2 separate regions of the Homo sapiens genome follow, and region 1 is linked to region 2. Evidence: fine-mapped expression QTL. A gene starts in region 2. The other region holds a variant in brackets. All regions are shown on one strand. Distances are between the middles of the regions.

Region 1 (8,000 bases), 46 kb after region 2:
TATTTGGGAGGCTGAGGCAGGAGAATCGCTTGAACCCAGGAGGCAGAGGCTGAAGTGAGCTGAGATTGTGCCACTGCACTCCAGCCTGGGCAACAGAGTGAGACTCCATCTCAAAAAAAAACAAAAACAAAAACAAAAACAAAAACAAAAAAAAACATTGATTTTGATCCAGATAATCTCTCTTTTGTTTTTGTAATTTAGACTGGTCAACACCCATTGCTTCATTCTAGCTATTTTAAAAGTTTAACTATAGTTGCTATGATGAACTCATTATGTTGACAAAACAAATCACAATTTTCCCTTCTATTACTTATATATGCTTTGTAAAACACCACTTTTCTTGTCCTAGAAAATGTTATAAAAAGATGACTTAAGGGAAGATTTATATAAGGCATAGTGTAGTGTCTAAAACTTGAGTTCTTGTCCAATTATTGCTTTCTAATATTTCAATCTTCTGAAATGACTGAGCCATATTTGGTCTTAGGTTTGCAATTCTATTTCTACCAGGAGCTAGCCTCATAACTTTACGTAATAATAATAATGATACAACAATAAATTTTAACAGCGATTTACAGTTTTAAAATGCATTCACAGTTGTCATTTCATTTGATTCAGCATTCCACAGATATTAATTGAGCATAGACTAAGTGCTAGGCAGTTAGGCAGGGCAGCTGTTATTATGCCCATATGAGAAAACAAATACAGATGTTAAGTGAAGTCTCTAGGATTATACCACTGCCAAAGTGGGGAAGCCAGGAAATGAACCTGGGTTCCCTCTTGAGAGGTAATGTAGTGTGGTGCAGAGATTAGGAGCACAGACTCTGGAACCATGCTGCACTGGCTTAGACACCAGTTCTGCCACATTCTAGCTGTTTAACCTCGGGCAAGTTACTTCACCTCTCTGTGCTGGGGTCTGTTGTGAAGAGATTAAGAATATTCACAAAGCACTTAGAGCCTGGTAGGTAGTAAGAACTAAGTAAGTGTTTACTGTTATTATTTGGTGTTCAGGACAGTATTGTTTTTGGCATTATGCTACTTCTCTCTTTATATAGTTTGATAGACTATCTCCTCTTTCTTTCCAGTGGAGTTTTTCTGTATTTTGTAACTGTCAAATTCATTTGGCAAAATCACTATCTATCTGTCATTTGGCCTGTATGACTAAAATGGTCTATTTGGAATAACTGGGCTTTAAGAAACCACCCCCAGCTTATATACTCATTTTCTTTCTTTCTTTCTTTCTTTCTTTCTTTCTTTCTTTCTTTCTTTCTTTCTTTCTTTCTTTTTTTTTTTTTTTGAAACAGGGTCTCTCTCTGTCACCCAAGCTGGAGTGCAATGGCACAGTCTCAGTTCACTGCAACCTCCAGTCCCCAGCGTTAAGCAATCCTACCACCTTGGCCTCCTGAGTAGGTGGGACCCCAGGCACATACCACCACACCCAGCTATTTTTGTATTTCCATATTTTTAGTAGAGACAGGAGTCTCACCATGTTGCCCAGGCTGGTCTTGAACTCCTGAGCTCAAGCCATCTACCCACCTCCGCCTCCCAAAGTGCTACAAGCATGAGCCACCATGCTCGGCCTATATTCTCATTTTCTAGAATGCTAAGAAATGAAGCTGATCCTTATGTGAAGAGATGTAGTGAGAAACTCTTTGAAGAAAGGTCTAGTTAAGTCTTGGTAAAATAGAATTGCATGAAAACATTTTCAGGATAATGTGGAAGGATTTCATTATTTTTTCCTACATATACACGAATATGAGTGTAATTTGCAATTTCTGAAAGACCAGTGGTTTCTATGATCACTCTAAAATTACCTGGTAGATAAAGTAACATGTCTGACAGTTGGACTTCTCCCAGAAATTCTTTATTAAAGCTTCTCAATTAATACAAGCACATTTTTAATCTATTGTTATTTATTTTAATGGTCCTAGAAGAAAACATTTATTTACTCCAAAAAGTTAAACACTGATTACATGAATATTGGCTAACAGTATCTATTTTTATAGTTTAAATTAAATTATCTTACTTAAAGTATAGTAGAGGGGTTTGCTTAGTCCATGAGATAAAAACTAAAAGCAAGCCAAAAAAAAAAAAAAAAAAGGAAGGAAAACAAAAAAAAAACAAACAAAAAAGTGTTGAAAGACTTTTAGATTTTCTTCTTGTTAAGCATAGTTTCATTTGTTCAGAGGCAAATTATTGATAGCATTTTATTGTGAATTTTCATCTTACAGAGTTTAAACATCTTCCAGAACCTAAATAAGCGGCAGTTTGAAACAGTTATTCATTTGTTCGAGGTCGCAATAATAGCAACTGACCTGGCTTTATATTTCAAGTAAGTACATAACTCTGCACAGTGGAATGCCCTATACTCTGTGTGGTTTTACCTTCCATAAATTATCTGTTGCATTAATGTTAAAAGGCATTTATTCACACACATACACACACACAGACACACACACACACATACACACAAAATTTGCTCTCCTTTTGGATTACCAAGTAGAGTATCTTCAAGACAGATGCCTGCCAGTAAATTTACTAGACCTCTGGGAACATATTTTAAAAACATAAGCTCCTAATATTAAGTAGGTTGCTCTCCGAACAGGTTTGAATTGCAGAATGTGCAGCCAAGTTTGTGCCTTGTCAAAAGAGTGAAGCCAAGAGACCTCTCAAGGTGGCTTTTTGTCCAGGTGAATTCTCTATGGTCCAGAATCTGGCATTTTAATGTTTCAGCCTCAGAAATTTAATTCTGTCAAAGTCTGGGAGCTGAACAATTTTGATGGCATTGACACACATTAACCAAACTTACAAAACTGAGTCATACGTAACAGAGAGCCAGCCTATTTACAACAGTAATATTGCCAAGGAGACCAGATACTCCCAGTATCTCCACATTTTCTCATAAGTGAACTATAAAGTTGCTTGATGAAAATGGGTTAGAACAAGATGAACTAGTTATAGGATGGAAATATTCAGTGGCTTGGGCATTGTCAAATTATGCCTTTCTGATCCTTCACTAAATATTTATTTATTATTTATTATTATTATTATATGTATTATTATACAGGTCTCACTCTGTCACCTGGGCTGGAGTGCAGTGGCACAACCTCGGGTCACTGCAATCTCGGCCTCCAAGGTTCAAGCGATTCTCCTGCCTCAGCCTCCTGAGTAGCTGGGACTTCAGTCTCCCACCACCACATCTGGCTAATTTTTATATTTTTAGTAGAGATGGGTTTCACCATGTTGGCCAGGCTGGTCTTGAACTCCCGACCTCAACTGATCTGCCCACCTGGCCCTCCCAAAGTGCTGGGATTACAGGTGTGAGCCGTTGCACTGGGCCTGAATATTTAATTATTAAATAGTTCAATGTGAAGACAAATACTAAGAATAATAAAATGGATATCCAAATATCTATAGCCTAAATTTAACAAATGCGAAATTTTGCCATATTTGCCTCAGATTTTGCTTTATAAGGAGAAAAAAACTAGTGATGCAATTGAGGTATTCCACCCCTACTCCACTATGAAAAATCCCTTCCCTTCTTCCACAAAGATATCACCGTCTGACGTTGATGTGTATTCATAATTTCCATCCATGTTTTTATATGGTATTGTTGTGTGTTGTTTTTTTTGTTTGGTTTCTTGGTTTTTTTGCGACGGAGTCTCACTCTGTCACCAGGCTGGAGTGCAGTGGCGCAATCTCGGCTCACTGTAATCTCTGCCTCCTGGGTTCAAGTGATTCTTCTGCCTCAGCCTCCAGAGTAGCTAGGACTACAGGCACACGTCACCACGCCTGGCTAATTTTTTTTTTTTTTTTTTTTTTTTTTTTGTATTTTAGTAGAGATGGGGTTTCACCATGTTGGCCAGGATGGTCTCTCTATCTCCTGACCTCGTGATCCACCCACCTTGGCCTCCCAAAATGCTGGGATTAGAGGCGTGAGCCACCTCGCCCAACCTGTTGTGTGTTTTCAAATTGTCCATAGGTGGTATCATACTGTCTGTACATACCTTTCTGCAACTTGCTTTATTCATGCAACATTGTGTTTCAAAGATTTATCATTGATAATAAATGGAGCTCCAATGCATCCATTTTAACTGAATAGAGTATTCAACTGTTGAATATTCATAATTAATTTACCCAGTCTTCTATTCATAGACATTTCAATTGTTTCTAATTTTTCATCATTGCCTACAATGCTACCTTGTATGTCCCTGTATATATATATGAGAGTTTCTCTAAGAAATGTAAAAGTGACAATGCTGTAGGATTTGCATGTCTTCAATTTCATGCTACATTACAAAACTGCACTCCTGAGAAGTTGTGCCAGTTAGCACTCCCACACACAGTGT[G/A]CAAGAGTTCCAGCTGAGTGAGGTGGCTCATGCCTGTAATCTCAGCACTTTGGGAGGCCAAGGCAGGAGGATCACTTGAGGCCAGGAATTTGAGACCAGCCTGGGCAACATAGCAAGACTGTCTCTACAAAAAAATTAAAAAATTAGCCAGGCATGCTGGAGCATGCCTGTAGTCCCACCTACTCGGTAGGCTGAAGTGGGAGGATCCCTTAAGCCTAGGAGTTCAAGGTTCCAGTGAGCTAGGATCAAGCTATTTCACTCCAGCCTGAGTGGTAGAGCAAGATTCTGTCTCAAAAAAAAAAAAAAAAAAAAAAAGAAAAAGAAAAAGAAAAGAAAGAAAGAAAGAAAGAAAAAGAAAAATACCACATCTGAAGTACTCTTGAACTCAGCAAATTGAAATTTTATTTTGCTAATATAATGAGTGTGAGATAATATCTTATTGTTCAAATTTGTAGTTTCTTGATTAGTAGTGAGACCAGCTGGACATCCGTGTGTTTTGGGTTCCAACTTTTTGTTGGCTATATGTGTTGTGATATCTTATCATAGTTTGGGGCCTTTATTTTTAGGTTATGGTCTCTTTTCTCATATGTAATTTTGTATTTACTTTCATTTTTAAAGAGACAGGGTCTTGCTTTGTTGCCCAGGCTGGTTTAAAACTCCCGGCTTCAAGCAATCCTCCCACCTTAGTCTCCCAAAGTGCTGGGATTATAGATGTGAGCCACTGCACCCGGCCTTATATGTAACTTTTTCGTTGTAATGTATTCCAAGTTACCTGTTTTGTTTTGTTTTTCCCTCTCTCTCTCTCTCTCTCTCTGTATGGTTTGTGCTTTTTCTGCCTTAAACCCTTTCTGAGCCAAAGTTATACCACCATTCTCTGCTCTCGTATTTTCTGGCCCTGTAGACTTTGCTATGTGGACATCACAATGCAAAGTGGGAACGTGAAATCTGAAAAGCATGTATTTAAGATATTTTTTCTCTCTTTTCATAAGCTAAAATTGTTGCTCACAGCTGTATCTTTTCTAGGAAGAGGACCATGTTTCAAAAAATTGTTGATGCCTGTGAACAAATGCAAACGGAAGAAGAAGCCATCAAATATGTAACTGTTGATCCAACCAAGAAAGAGATTATCATGTAGGTAGTTGAAATTGTATTTCTCTCTTGTTTTTTGTAAAAATAACTTATTTTGTACTTATTTCTATTTTAAAATTTTTTGTTTTCTTCCTAAGGGCAATGATGATGACGGCATGTGACTTGTCTGCTATTACCAAGCCCTGGGAGGTGCAAAGTCAGGTGAGTCCAGTTAAGTTTTCTTTTCTGTCACACTGTCAGGTACTGCCTAGGTCCCATGTAAATGTCCACCTAAAGATCTCAGGCAACCTCAGAATTCTGAAAAATTACAAATATTAGTGAGACAGTAGGCAATTTGATTAGGCCCTAGAATAAAGCAAATAGAAGGAACTTTGGAAGGAGAATTCTTTCTTGAAAGAATTCTTTAACATTGAAACACTGTAAATAATTTATATAAAATTATCCAAGAAATGTCTGAGTTTTTAAATAGAGGAGTGTATTAGCCTGTTCTCATGCTGCTGCTAATAAAGACATACCCGAGACTGGGTAATTTATAAAGGAAAGAGGTTTAATGAACTCACAGTTCCACATGGCTGGGGAGGCCTCACAATCATGGTGGAAGATGAAGGAAGAGCAAAGGGATGTCTTATGTGGTGGCAGGCAAGAGAGAGCGTGTGCAGGGGAACTCCCCTTTATAAAACCATCAGATCTTGTGAGACTTACTTAATATCACTAGAACAGCACGGGAAAGATTTGTCCCCATGATCCAATTACCTCCCACTGGGTCACTCCCATGAATTGGGAATTATGGGAACTACAATTCAAGATGAGATTTGTGTGGGGACATAGCCAAACTATATCAATGAGGTAAGTCAGAACAAGATCAGGATGCATCGTTAGTGTTTTCCTCTATCAAGGGTGTTTTTGCTCCTATAGTCTCTTCTTCAATGTGCTGTGAATTATAAGAAGGCACTGACTGTGAGATGATGTCTAAGGTTGCCTTCCACTGAAGTTCTTCCCCCACCTTGGGGAGGCACTAGTCTACCACTTGCTTTCTTACTAATTGGATGAAAAAACCTTCCTTTTTCCTCCAGTAATTTCTAGGGAAACCCCTAAGCAGAAGAGAGCCCAGAATTAAATGGGTTTAACTATAAAAGTGGGTTGTATCTTTTTAAAAAGATAGAATAATTAGAACTCAGTGTAGGGGAGAAAAAATATCTATTTCTCACCCATCCTAGCTTCATGACTGAGGCCCCTATAACAAAAGACAGATTAACAAGAGAAAAGCGTACACGTTTATTTGTTTTACATGTAATACAGGAGCCTTCGTGAGGAAACAAAGACCCTAAGAAACAGTTAAACTTGTATGTTTTATGCTAGGTTGGATGAATTAGATAGTCATGGAGAAATAGAATTCAACAAAGAGGGTATGATCTAATCGTGAGGCAGCTTAGCAAGGCCGATTTGTTCAGATTCTTCTTGGCATCTTTGTGTCTCTGGCTCCTTTCCTCCAGGAATAGGGAGGGCACCTCTTGAATGAAGGTCTTATGATCTGCTTCAGGGGAAGGTCAGAAAATCCTTACCTGGTTTTATGACCTACTTCAGGGGAGAAGGTCGGGGGAAGGTGAGACTGATCTTCCTGCTGCTTTAGTTTCCTCAAATTCCGTCACCTTAAAATATTTGGGGGCAGGGTGTCCTGAACTCCGTCACCATCAAGTCCAAAACCAAATGCTTCCTCTCCTTCCACCTCGACATGCCTGCTCTTCTTCCTCTGTTCTTTATCGATGAGGTCACCCAAGCTAGAAACCTGGGGTCCTGCTTGAGCTTATCTCCCTCATTTCAAAATCATTTATATCAGCCTCGCTAGTACCTCAGTTCTGACTTTTATCAGAACTATGGTAGCAGCCTCCTAATAGATGCTCACATCAACTCCACAAGTCATCCTCTGACTTGCTGCCAGGATGTCTCTACACAGAGCTCAACTCAGCCATTCTACTCCTTAAAAGGCTCATACTCCCCATTGCCAGAGGTTTCCAACTTCTTTCCCAAAGAAGTAAAGTCTATTTTCTCCCAACAAAACTTGCCCAAAGATCACTTTATAAAAGAGAAAAAAGCAAAGCTACTTTAGCTTTCATCTCTCTTGGTCTCCACCTTCTTGGGCCCTAGAGCACTTCAGGGGAACCCTAGACTCCAAGAGTAAACAGCACTGGCCTAGAGAATCAAATTCAAGCTTCCTGGCAAAATTTACATGGCCTGTCACTGCCTGTCCTCAACTCACACTCCCAGCATCAATTCCCATCACCTTCTCCCATGTCATTGCTTCACACTCTAAGCCTGCACTCACAGAAGCTTTGTACGTTCCATTTTATCTCGGCAAATATTCTTCCCCTCCTCTTTTCCTGGAAAATTACTCTTGTTCTTCACAATACAACATAAATGCCACCTCCTTCCTTCATGAAACTTATCTTTACTCCCTTCTCCCTGACCCATAGCACTTACACTATTATTGTTACAGCACTTACCACACTGTATACATGACTGTCTTCGCTAGACTCTGAACATTTTAAAGAAAAAGATCACCCCTTA
Region 2 (9,889 bases):
AGGCAAAGAATTTATGACTAAGTCCTCAAAAGAAAACACGACAAAAACAAAAATTGACACGTGGGACCTAATTAAACTAAAGAGCTTCTGCACAGCAAAAGACACTATCAACAGAGTAAACAGACACTCTACGAAATGGGAGAAAATATTAGCAAACTATGCATCTGACAAAGGACTAATATCTAGAATCTATAAAAAACAAATCAACAAGAAGAAAACAAATTACCCCATTAAAAAGTGGGCAAAGGACAGGGACAGGTATTTCTCAAAAGAAGACATACAAGCAGCCAACAAACATATGAAAAAATGTTCAACATCACTAATCATTAGAGAAATGCAAATCAAAACCTTTCGCACCAGACAGTATGGCTGTTATTAAAAAGTCAAAAAATAGCAGATGTTGGTAAGGTTGTGGAGAAAAAGGAACACTCATATGCTGTTGGTGGGATTGTAAATTGGTTCAGTCCCTCCGGAAAACAGTGTTGAGATTTCTCAAAGAACTAACAATAGAACTCCCATTTGACCCAGCAATCCCATTACTGGGTGTCTATCCAGTAGAAACCCAAAAGAAAATAGATCATGCTACCTAAAAGACACCTGCACTCACAAGTTTATCACAGCACTATTCACAATAGCAAAGACATGGAATCAACCCAGGTGCCCATCAGCGGTGAACTGGGTAAAGAAAATGTGGTACATATGCACCAATGGAATACTATGCAGCCATACAAAAAACAAAATCATGTCCTATGCAGCAACATGGATGCAGCTGGAGGCCATTATCCTAAGTGAATTAATGCAGGAACAGAAAACCAAATACCACATGTTCTTACTTATAAGTGAGAGCTAAACATTGAGTATACATGGACACAATGATGGGAACAATAGGCACTGGGGCCTCCACAAGGACAAAGGAAAGGGTTGAAAAACTACGTATTGAGTACTATGCTCCCTATCTGGGTGATGGGTTCAACTGAAGCTCAAACCTCAGCATCATGCAATATACCCATATAAAAACCTACACGTGTACCACCTGAATCAGACATTTTAAAAAATAAAATATGTTATTTTCTGAAATTGATTTTGTTTTTTTCAGTGCCTAGTAGCAGACAGCCAATAAGAGACACAAAGATCTTGCTAACACTGGCAAGAAGCTCTGCAAAGAACTATCCCAAGAGGAAGAGCTATGGAAATCACAGGACTTCATCAAGAACAAGAAAGAAAGAAAAGGCTATTGGTGTGTGTGCTAAAAGGAGGCTTCTAATATTACCCATTTAAAAATCTTTGATAAAATGTCATTTGTCTTAGTTCAGGTGGCTATAACAAAGTGTCATAGAAGGAGTGGCTCATAGTTCTGGAAGCTGGAGGTCTGAGGTCAGGGTGCCAGCATGGTCAGGTTCAGTGATGGCCATCTTCCTCTTCCAGGTCACAGACAGCCATCTTCTCCTGGTATCCTCACATGGAAGAAAGAGGGCTGGAGAGCTCTCTGGGGGCCCTTTAATAAGGGCACTAATACCACTTGTGAGGGTTCCATCCTCATGACCTAGTCACATCCTGAAGGCCATACCGTCTAATACCATCACATTAGAGGTTAGGATTTCAACAGATGAGTTTTAGGGGAATACAAACGTTCAGTCCATAACTTCGCTCAACACTCAAAGTAGTTAACAGTGACCCCTTCTCTTGTGTGCTTTTTCTAACTAATCAATTGCCTCGTCCTGTCAATTGTCATGACACATTTGCTGGATTGTGTCTCACATTTGTCCTTTTCTTTTTCATTCCCAAGCAACTTCACCCATAGACTGCAGAGATAACCTCAAAATCTTTGTTTATGAATGACTTAATTTCTTTATTACATAAAGTATATATGTTCATTGTAGATGCTTTACAAAAATCAGGTAAGCAAAAAAGAAGAAAAAAATTAATGTCTTGAATCCCACCACTTTGAAATAACTTTTTTTTTCTGAGATAGGTTCTTGTTCAGTCGCCCAGGTTGGAGTGCGGTGGTGCGATCACAGCTCCCTGCAGCCTCTACCTCCTGATCTCAAGCCATCCCCCCATCTCAGTCCCAGTCTCAGCTGAGACTACAGGCATGTGCCACCAAGCCCAGCTAATTTTTGTAATTTTTTGTAGGGCGGGGTTTCACCATGTTGCCTAGGCTGCTGTCAGACTCCTGAGTTCAAGTAATTTGCCTGTCTCGGCCTCCCAAAGTGCTGGGATTATAGGCATGAGCCACTGTGTCCTGCCTTGAAATAATTTCACTTAATATTTTGGTATATATACCTCTGTCTGTGCATATTAATGGAATTATGCTGCAATACTGTTTGTAATTAACTGCATATCATAAATATTTTTTCATGTCAATAGACTTTAACAATATTATTAGGTTGGTACAAAAGTAATTGCGGTTTTTGCCACTAAAAGTAATGGGGAAAATCGCTATTATTTTTGTACCAACCTAATAGCTGCGTAGCTTTCTATTTTACAGATCTAATACCATTTATTTACTCAACCTCCTACTATTAAGTGTCTAGGCTATTTCTGATCTTTTACTTTTATACCCACACTCATGGTAAGCACCCTTGCAACTATATTAATCACATACATTCTTAATTATTTCTCTAAGATGAATTCATAAAAGCAGAATTGTGGGGTCAAAGCCTATACACATTTTTAGGTTGTTTGATAATAAGCCAAATGCAATAAAGTATCTTAATCTGTATCCCAATGTCCAGTATTCTGTTTTCCTCCAACTTATCTTCCTCCTTAAGTTTGTAAAGAAGAACACTAATAATGTTGCCTCCCACTTCAAAAATTGTCCAGGATTCAAAATCCTCAGTCTAGGCTTTGAAGCCCTTCTAATCTGGGCCCGGCCCACCTTTTCAGGGTCACCTCTCACTGTCCTCCCTGTATTACCCTACACCCCATGCTATTGCTTCTGAACACTCTTGATTTCTACCCTGTCTTCAGCCACACTAGATATGATCCCTTTCGTGAACTCCGATAGCCATGTACATGTGCCTCACTTCCAGCATTAATTGTATTCTGTTCTATGTCTCATGGGCTTTTTACGCACTAGTCTTACCTCCCTTCCCACACCACAAGTGCTTGTAATGCTGGGACCACCCCCTGAGTCCCCGACAGTAGAAGTGTAACTGTCAGAATTGTCTTGGTGATGCTGCAGTAACAACAACCCTCAGGTCTCCGAGGCTGAAAACAAGACAAGTTTATTTCTCATCATGCTACATGTCCATCTCGGGTCATCCAGGGGCCTCTGTTACATGACATCCTCACTCTGGGATTCAGGGGCCCTTTCATCTGAAACTGATGTGGCAGCAGAGGGAACAGAGACCTGGAGAGCCTCCCGTTGGCAATTAATTGTTCCTGTCTGAAAGTGATATTTCTGCCCACAAACCATTTGTTAAAATCAGTCACATGGCTGTACCAGAGGGAGGAAGAGTAATCTTCCCATGTAACTGGGAGAAGGAAACAATCATATAATATAAGGGGAACTTGAAGTCTCTATCACAATAGCTAGAATGGTGCCTTGCTTGTAACAGACAATCAATAGACAAATGTTGAAAGAATGAACAAATGAGGCCAGGTGAAGTGGCTCACACCTGTAATCCCAGCACTTTGGGAGGCCAAGGAGGGCAGATTACCTAAAGAGTTCGAGACCAGCCTGGCCAACATGGTGAAACCTTGTCTCTACTAAAAATACAAAAAAATTAGCCAGGTATGGTGGCATGCACCTGTAATCCCAGCTACTCCGGAGGCTGAGGCAAGAGATTCGCTTGAACCCGGGAGGCGGAGGTTGCAGTAAGCCAAGATCGCGCCTGGGCAATAGAGGGAGACTCCATCTCAAAAAAACAAAAAAGAAAGAAAGAATGAACAAATGAATGAATCTCTAACTAGTTATAAAAACAAAAGAATGCTGACTATAATAGGATGTTTCTTTTTCAAATTAATATTCACTTTTATAAGATTATGAAAGATGGGCCGGGCACGGTGGCTCATACCTGTAATCCCAGCACTTTGGGAGGCCGAGGCGGGTGGATCACGAGGTCAGGAGATCAAGATCATCCTGGCTAACACAGTGAAACCCCGTCTCTACTAAAAATACAAAAAATTAGCCGGGCATGGTGGCAGGAGCCTGTAGTCCCAGCTACTCGGGAGGCTGAGGCAGGAGAATGGCATGAACCCAGGAGGCAGAGGTTGCAGTGAGCCGAGATCGCACCACTGCACTCTAGCCTGGGCAATAGAGCAAGACTCTGTCTCAAAAAAAAAAAAAAAAAGATTATGAAAGTTGAACATATATGGGCATTTTGTTTTTTCTTTTTCTATTAAGTATAAGTCTGTATATGAAATGCAAATATGTGTTTTTCCCTCTCTGTTTCAAGAGGGAAGGATGAAACCAGGAAATCGTGAGCACACCACATACTTACAGGAGAAGTAGGAACTGTACCATGAGTCACACAAAATAACTAGGTAAAAAAGAGTGTCCAAAATTGTTAGATAAGGAAGATGGTCCCATAGGAGGGGTGACTCAGTTGACTCAACTCTCTCCTGGGAAATACACTTCTGCATTATCCTATTTATAATAACAGGGTGTTATGAAGTAAATAGTCACCCAAAGAGGAACCTCCTGAGAGTAGAGTTGAGTGTGACATAGGACAGTCCAAGAAAATATGTGCACCTGACAAGGTGCTTTGAGGTAGCAGGTGAAGCTCAATCACAAGAAGTGGCATAACTCAACAAATGACTCTTTCTGTACCCCTGGGAAAACCATGTTTCCCACCAAGAATCTCTCAATTCATGACAGGGAATGTGCAACCTCAACGGATCTCTCTTTCTTTTGTGACTATTAAGATTACTATCTCTCAGGCTGACACAGGTGGATCACCTGAGGTTGGGAGTTCAAGACTAGCCTGGCCAACATGGTGAAACCCCATCTCTACCAAAAATACAAAAATTAGCTGGGCGTGGTGGCACCCACCTGTAGTCCCAGCTACTCGGGAGGCTGAGGCAGGAGAATCACTTGAACCTAGGAGACGGAGGTTGCAGTGAGCTGAGATCGCACCACTGCACTCCAGCCTGGCAATAGAGCGAGACTCAGTCTCAAAAAAAAAAAAAAAAAAAAAGAAAAAGATTACTATCTAGAGAGGTAAATCTTAGAGAACTCAATGAAACTCATAGGGTTTCTATTTTTGAAGCAAACTTAAATGTGGGTGTAACAATAATTTTTAGAGTCACTGTAACATGTGTGTGTTTTCCACTTAAGAGAATTTGTCATATTAGGTTTGTAGCTTTATTGAAGTGTTTAAAACACCTTGACTAAGTTTGAAACCAACATTTAAGTATCGAAGGCAATTGGTTCATGAATTAATAGTTTGAATTATTAGTTGCATAATAGTGTTTAAATATTTGAGGAAATGTGTTTAATAGATGTAAAAGCTTAGTAAAGTGAACATTAAACAAAACTAAGTAGTGGTAAGTGTTCTTTCTATGCCAGTAGCCCCTGAGACGTTAAGGATCCTAGCAACAGACAAGATATCTATCATCTAGTAGATTTAGTAGACTGTATGTTGTAGCAAAATCGCATGACCTCTGGCTATTACTATTGAAAACAAAATCCTAACTAAGATACTTAGCAGAAAAACCCAGCCAGCAACTATGTAGGTTACCTTTTGTAATTACAGTCTCTCGACAAGGGTTATTATTCAATTCATGACTTGATTAGGTTTGGATCATTGGCAAATATTTTGCTATGTTCACCTCTTTAGTAATAAGCTTGAGGTTTACTCCTTTAAAACACTTCTGAGGTCAAGCTTTCTGAAGTGACAGGGATTGAGAGGTGAAGGTTCTAGAGAAAGAGGAGGCCAAGCAACCTTGGTGATCAAAAGACTTTTAAGAAAAGGAAAGATTAATATTCACCTTTATGTTGCAGTGATGCAAACTGTTCCATATCTCCCAGATGTTCATTACAGTTGCTATATAAACAAAAAAAATCCAAGCACTTCCGAGGTCTAAATAGTTTTACTTCCTATAGCTATCATACAAGAACGATTCAAAGTGCCAATTGTTGCCAATGTCGTGTCATTCATGGATATGTCAGTGATTCTTCCTTGCTGTGGACAGCAGCCGACATTCAGTTATTTTTCTGGAATAGACACCTCAGCTTGCTACTTGCTGGGCTGATCTAAGATACTCTGAAGATTCGCTAGGGACTTATGAGCTACTAATGCTCAGGGATTTAGTGTCCTGAAGAACTCTTTAATCCTGTGCTTCCTGAATCCCACCCTAAGCCAGGGCCTTCTGTCACATCCCAAGAGTTACAGGCAGTTTGAAAGCTCTGCTTTCTGCTTGACCTTTGGAAGTCCTATGAGGGACCATTTACGGTTTCCTCAGTAATTTCCACCAGGATGAATTTCCTTCTCATCACTCTGCCTCAGGTAGTGCTCTGAAGGTCGTCCTTTCTGAACAAACGCAGCAAAGCAAGCCACACCATGGGTGAGATCAACCAAGTTGCCGTGGAGAAATACCTGGAGGAGAACCCTCAGTTTGCCAAGGAGTACTTTGACAGGAAGTTGCGGGTGGAGGTGCTGGGAGAAATCTTCAAGAACAGCCAGGTGCCAGTCCAGTCCAGCATGTCCTTCTCTGAGCTGACCCAGGTGGAGGAGTCAGCCCTGTGCTTGGAGCTGCTGTGGACCGTGCAGGAGGAGGGGGGCACCCCAGAGCAGGGGGTTCACAGGGCCCTGCAGAGGCTGGCCCACCTGCTCCAGGCTGACCGCTGCAGCATGTTCCTGTGCCGGTCCCGGAACGGCATACCTGAGGTGGCCTCTAGGTTGCTGGATGTCACCCCCACCTCCAAGTTTGAGGACAACCTGGTGGGCCCTGACAAAGAAGTTGTGTTTCCATTGGACATTGGGATAGTGGGTTGGGCTGCTCACACGAAGAAAACTCATAATGTCCCAGATGTGAAAAAGGTAGGTGGCCTTATGACAGTGGGGCAGAGGTCTTGGCAGGGTCAGGGAGGAACAAATGGGAAAGAGAGATAGTGCTATCCTTGTGGCATTAGTTTGGCAATAACCGGGGGAATGTGGGTGGCAGGGAAGAGGATCACCCAGGCCTAGTGTTGCCAAATTTAGCAAATGAAATTTCAAGTTGCCCAGTTGAACTTGAATTTCAGATAAACAATGAATTATTATTTTCTGAAGTATAAGTATGTCCCATGTAAAGTTTGGCATTTTATCAGGTGATCCTACCTGGCCCTGGTGCATTCCACACACCCTCCCTTACGCCTCCTCCAGTGCTCTGGGGGACTTTCCTTCTCAGCAACACCAGCAAAACAAACTACCCCACTAGGGAGATGGGCCAACGTGCCCAGATGCCAAGACTTGTGAACTGCTCCCCATGCCTCTCATTCACAGTCCTTCGAAAACATTCAGGTTTTTTGGATGGATTTGCTAGTAAATCAATTCTTTCATCTATCGACCAAATGTGCAAAGAGAAAAAATGATGCCATTTGAAAGTTCAGATGTTCAAATTTGGAATTCATTACATATGTGAATTTAGGTGATGGTTAAGTGCAATTGACCACTCCCACTGCTCCATAACCCAGATCTTTCAAGAATGAATTCCAATCAAGTAAGTGGGACATTTGGACCCTCTTGAAGACCAACAGCATACTGCACAAATACAAGGCATTGAGATGCCCCTTATAGAAATAGAAAAACTTTATTCTTACCATTAGAGTACATGTTCATTTTTAAACAATTATAAGATACAAATAAACCAGAGGAGGAAATGCTAATCACCCATCATCCCTCCCCTCAGCAATAATCAAGGGTACCAGCTTGGAGATTCTCCTGGCAGCTCCTTCTCTACACATGTGGTCCATTATTACAGTTTACCATTAACAAAAAGGGAAAAGTGGATTATGATGGAACAGAGTTGAATGGGAACAACTTGTGAAATGCTTTCTGTGCAGGGGTGTATAGGGCAGCTGGAGAGGCAGGAGGATAATCTCCTAAATGCCTCCTGAAGCTGATTATAGGGGGAGGGTCACACGGACCCAAGAGGTGTGGAAGTCATCAAACACGAGTGACTCTCTGCAAACAACCACAGAACACCGCTCAGGTGCAAGGGTTACCATGGGGCCTGGTAGGGCTTCAGTCCTGAATAATTCCTCCTTTCAGTAAGTTTAAGCTGGGTTAAGTTTGCTTTTGAGCCTGACTGCAGCTGCTTCAAGTGTCTAAATGGATGCTCATCCTTAGGGCAAAGTTCTCTAGACAACCAACTGGAAGGCAATGTCTGCACATCCTGAGGTTTTTCTCATGGGAATACGCTCCTTGAGGGTCCCCAACTGAGCCCATCCCTGCTAGCACATCAAACTTGAAAAAGTGACATTCAGCAATTTTTTGAAAGGCTTTTAAAGAAGAGATGGGTAAAATGATTTCTGCTGTTATACTTTGATTAGCCCAGTTCTCTGTGGTGAGAAGGAAATAAGAGCATGGAGCTGCTTGGAGGTGGTTTTGGTCTGCGGCTGTCCATGGTGAGCATCACGGCATGGACGGAGCACTTCATCTGGGAGTGGGGAGTCTCTCCTCTCTTCTCTGGAGGACTCCTGGCTGTTCTGGGTGGGACACAGAGAAATGTGTGTTGAAGACAGATACGGTTCTGTGCTCACGAGAAAGAGACCTCATTGGTTCTTCATTTCAACTGCTTCTTCACATTTTTTTCTCTCTAGAGTGGGGATTCCAACTCTGGCTGTACATTAAAACCATATTAAGCTGTGTGCAGTGGCTCACGCCTGTAATCCCAGCATTTTGGGAGGCCACGGCGGGTGGATGGCTTAAGCCCAGGAGTTCGAGACCAGGCTGGCCAACATGGGAAACCCCCGTCTCTACCAAAAATACAAAAATAAGCCAGGCATGGTGGTGTGTGCCTGGAGTCCCAGCTACTTGGAAGGTTGAGATGGGAGGATGGCCTGAGTCTGGGAGGCCAAGGCTGCAGTGAGCTGTGTTCACACACTGCACTCCAGCCTGGGTGACAGAATGAAACCCTGTCTCAAAAAATAAACACAATCCACAAAACCATATTGGTGGCTTTATTGTTACAGCGGACTCTCAAAGATTAGAATTCAGGCATTAGTATTTTTATTTTATTATTTATTTATTTTTGAGACAGTCTTGCTCCATCACCCAGGCTGGAGTGCGATGGCGCTATCTTGGCTCACTGCAACCTCTGCCTCCCGGGTTCAAGCAATTATCCTGCCTCAGCATCCTGAGTAGCTGGGACTACAGAGGTGCGCCACTATGCCTGGCTAATTTTTGTATTTTTAGTAGAAACGGGGTTTCACCATGTTGGCCAGGCTGGTACTGAACTCCTGACCTCAGGTGATCCACCTGTCTCGGACTTTCAAAGTGCTGGGATTACAGGCGTGAGCCACTGCGCCCGGCCCAGGCATTGGTATTTTTAAAAAGCTCCCCCAGCTACTTCTAATATGCAGCCAATGTTGAAAACCACTGGTCTCTTGGGTAAGCAGATACAGGAGGAGGAAGTGAATTTCAAATCAGCTGTGGAATATTAGAGATGGAAGGGGCTTATGAAGTCTTTAGCCCAACTCTGTCCTATGGAGGACAGGAAGTTGAGGCCATAGGAGTTGTATATCCCCCGGGTCCATGGTGTGTGTCTGTGGATGAGGAGGGTTGGAACGGAGGTGGCTGAGTATGTGTCCAGTGCTGTTTGCCTACCTTACACCCCTGCAGTTTCACTTGCTTTAGCCGCTGCAGTAAGATTTGCAACGGGAAAGGAAGTAGAAACCAATGTTTCAAATGAAATATCTGATTAATTCTTCCTCTTTTCATTGCACTTGACAATTTAAACA

Which allele goes with the higher level. Alleles are on the strand shown, and positions count from the first base shown. SD is a standard deviation of normalised expression in the study named.
For the expression in subcutaneous fat of the gene that starts at base 6,318 in region 2, A is the high allele of the variant in region 1 and G is the other (small effect, 0.24 SD a copy in GTEx).

Evidence for each region. PIP is the estimated chance that this variant, and not a neighbour inherited with it, causes the effect. A credible set is the group of variants that fine-mapping cannot tell apart.
Region 1: its variant is the best candidate, but not a certain one, in a credible set for the expression of PDE6C in subcutaneous fat (GTEx, PIP 0.80).

Annotation. Positions count from the first base shown.
Region 1 is chr10:93,653,532-93,661,531 of GRCh38, forward strand. PDE6C (phosphodiesterase 6C) reads left to right here. Exons shown (of 22, transcript NM_006204.4): 16 at 2,229-2,329; 17 at 5,370-5,477; 18 at 5,573-5,636. Among named protein-coding and RNA genes, the nearest start is that of PDE6C, 45 kb to the left of the region's middle. The variant G/A (reference allele first, on the strand shown) is at 4,347.
Region 2 is chr10:93,606,220-93,616,108 of GRCh38, forward strand. It overlaps PDE6C (phosphodiesterase 6C), which reads left to right and starts at 6,318. Exons shown (of 22, transcript NM_006204.4): 1 at 6,318-6,986. The coding sequence starts at 6,507.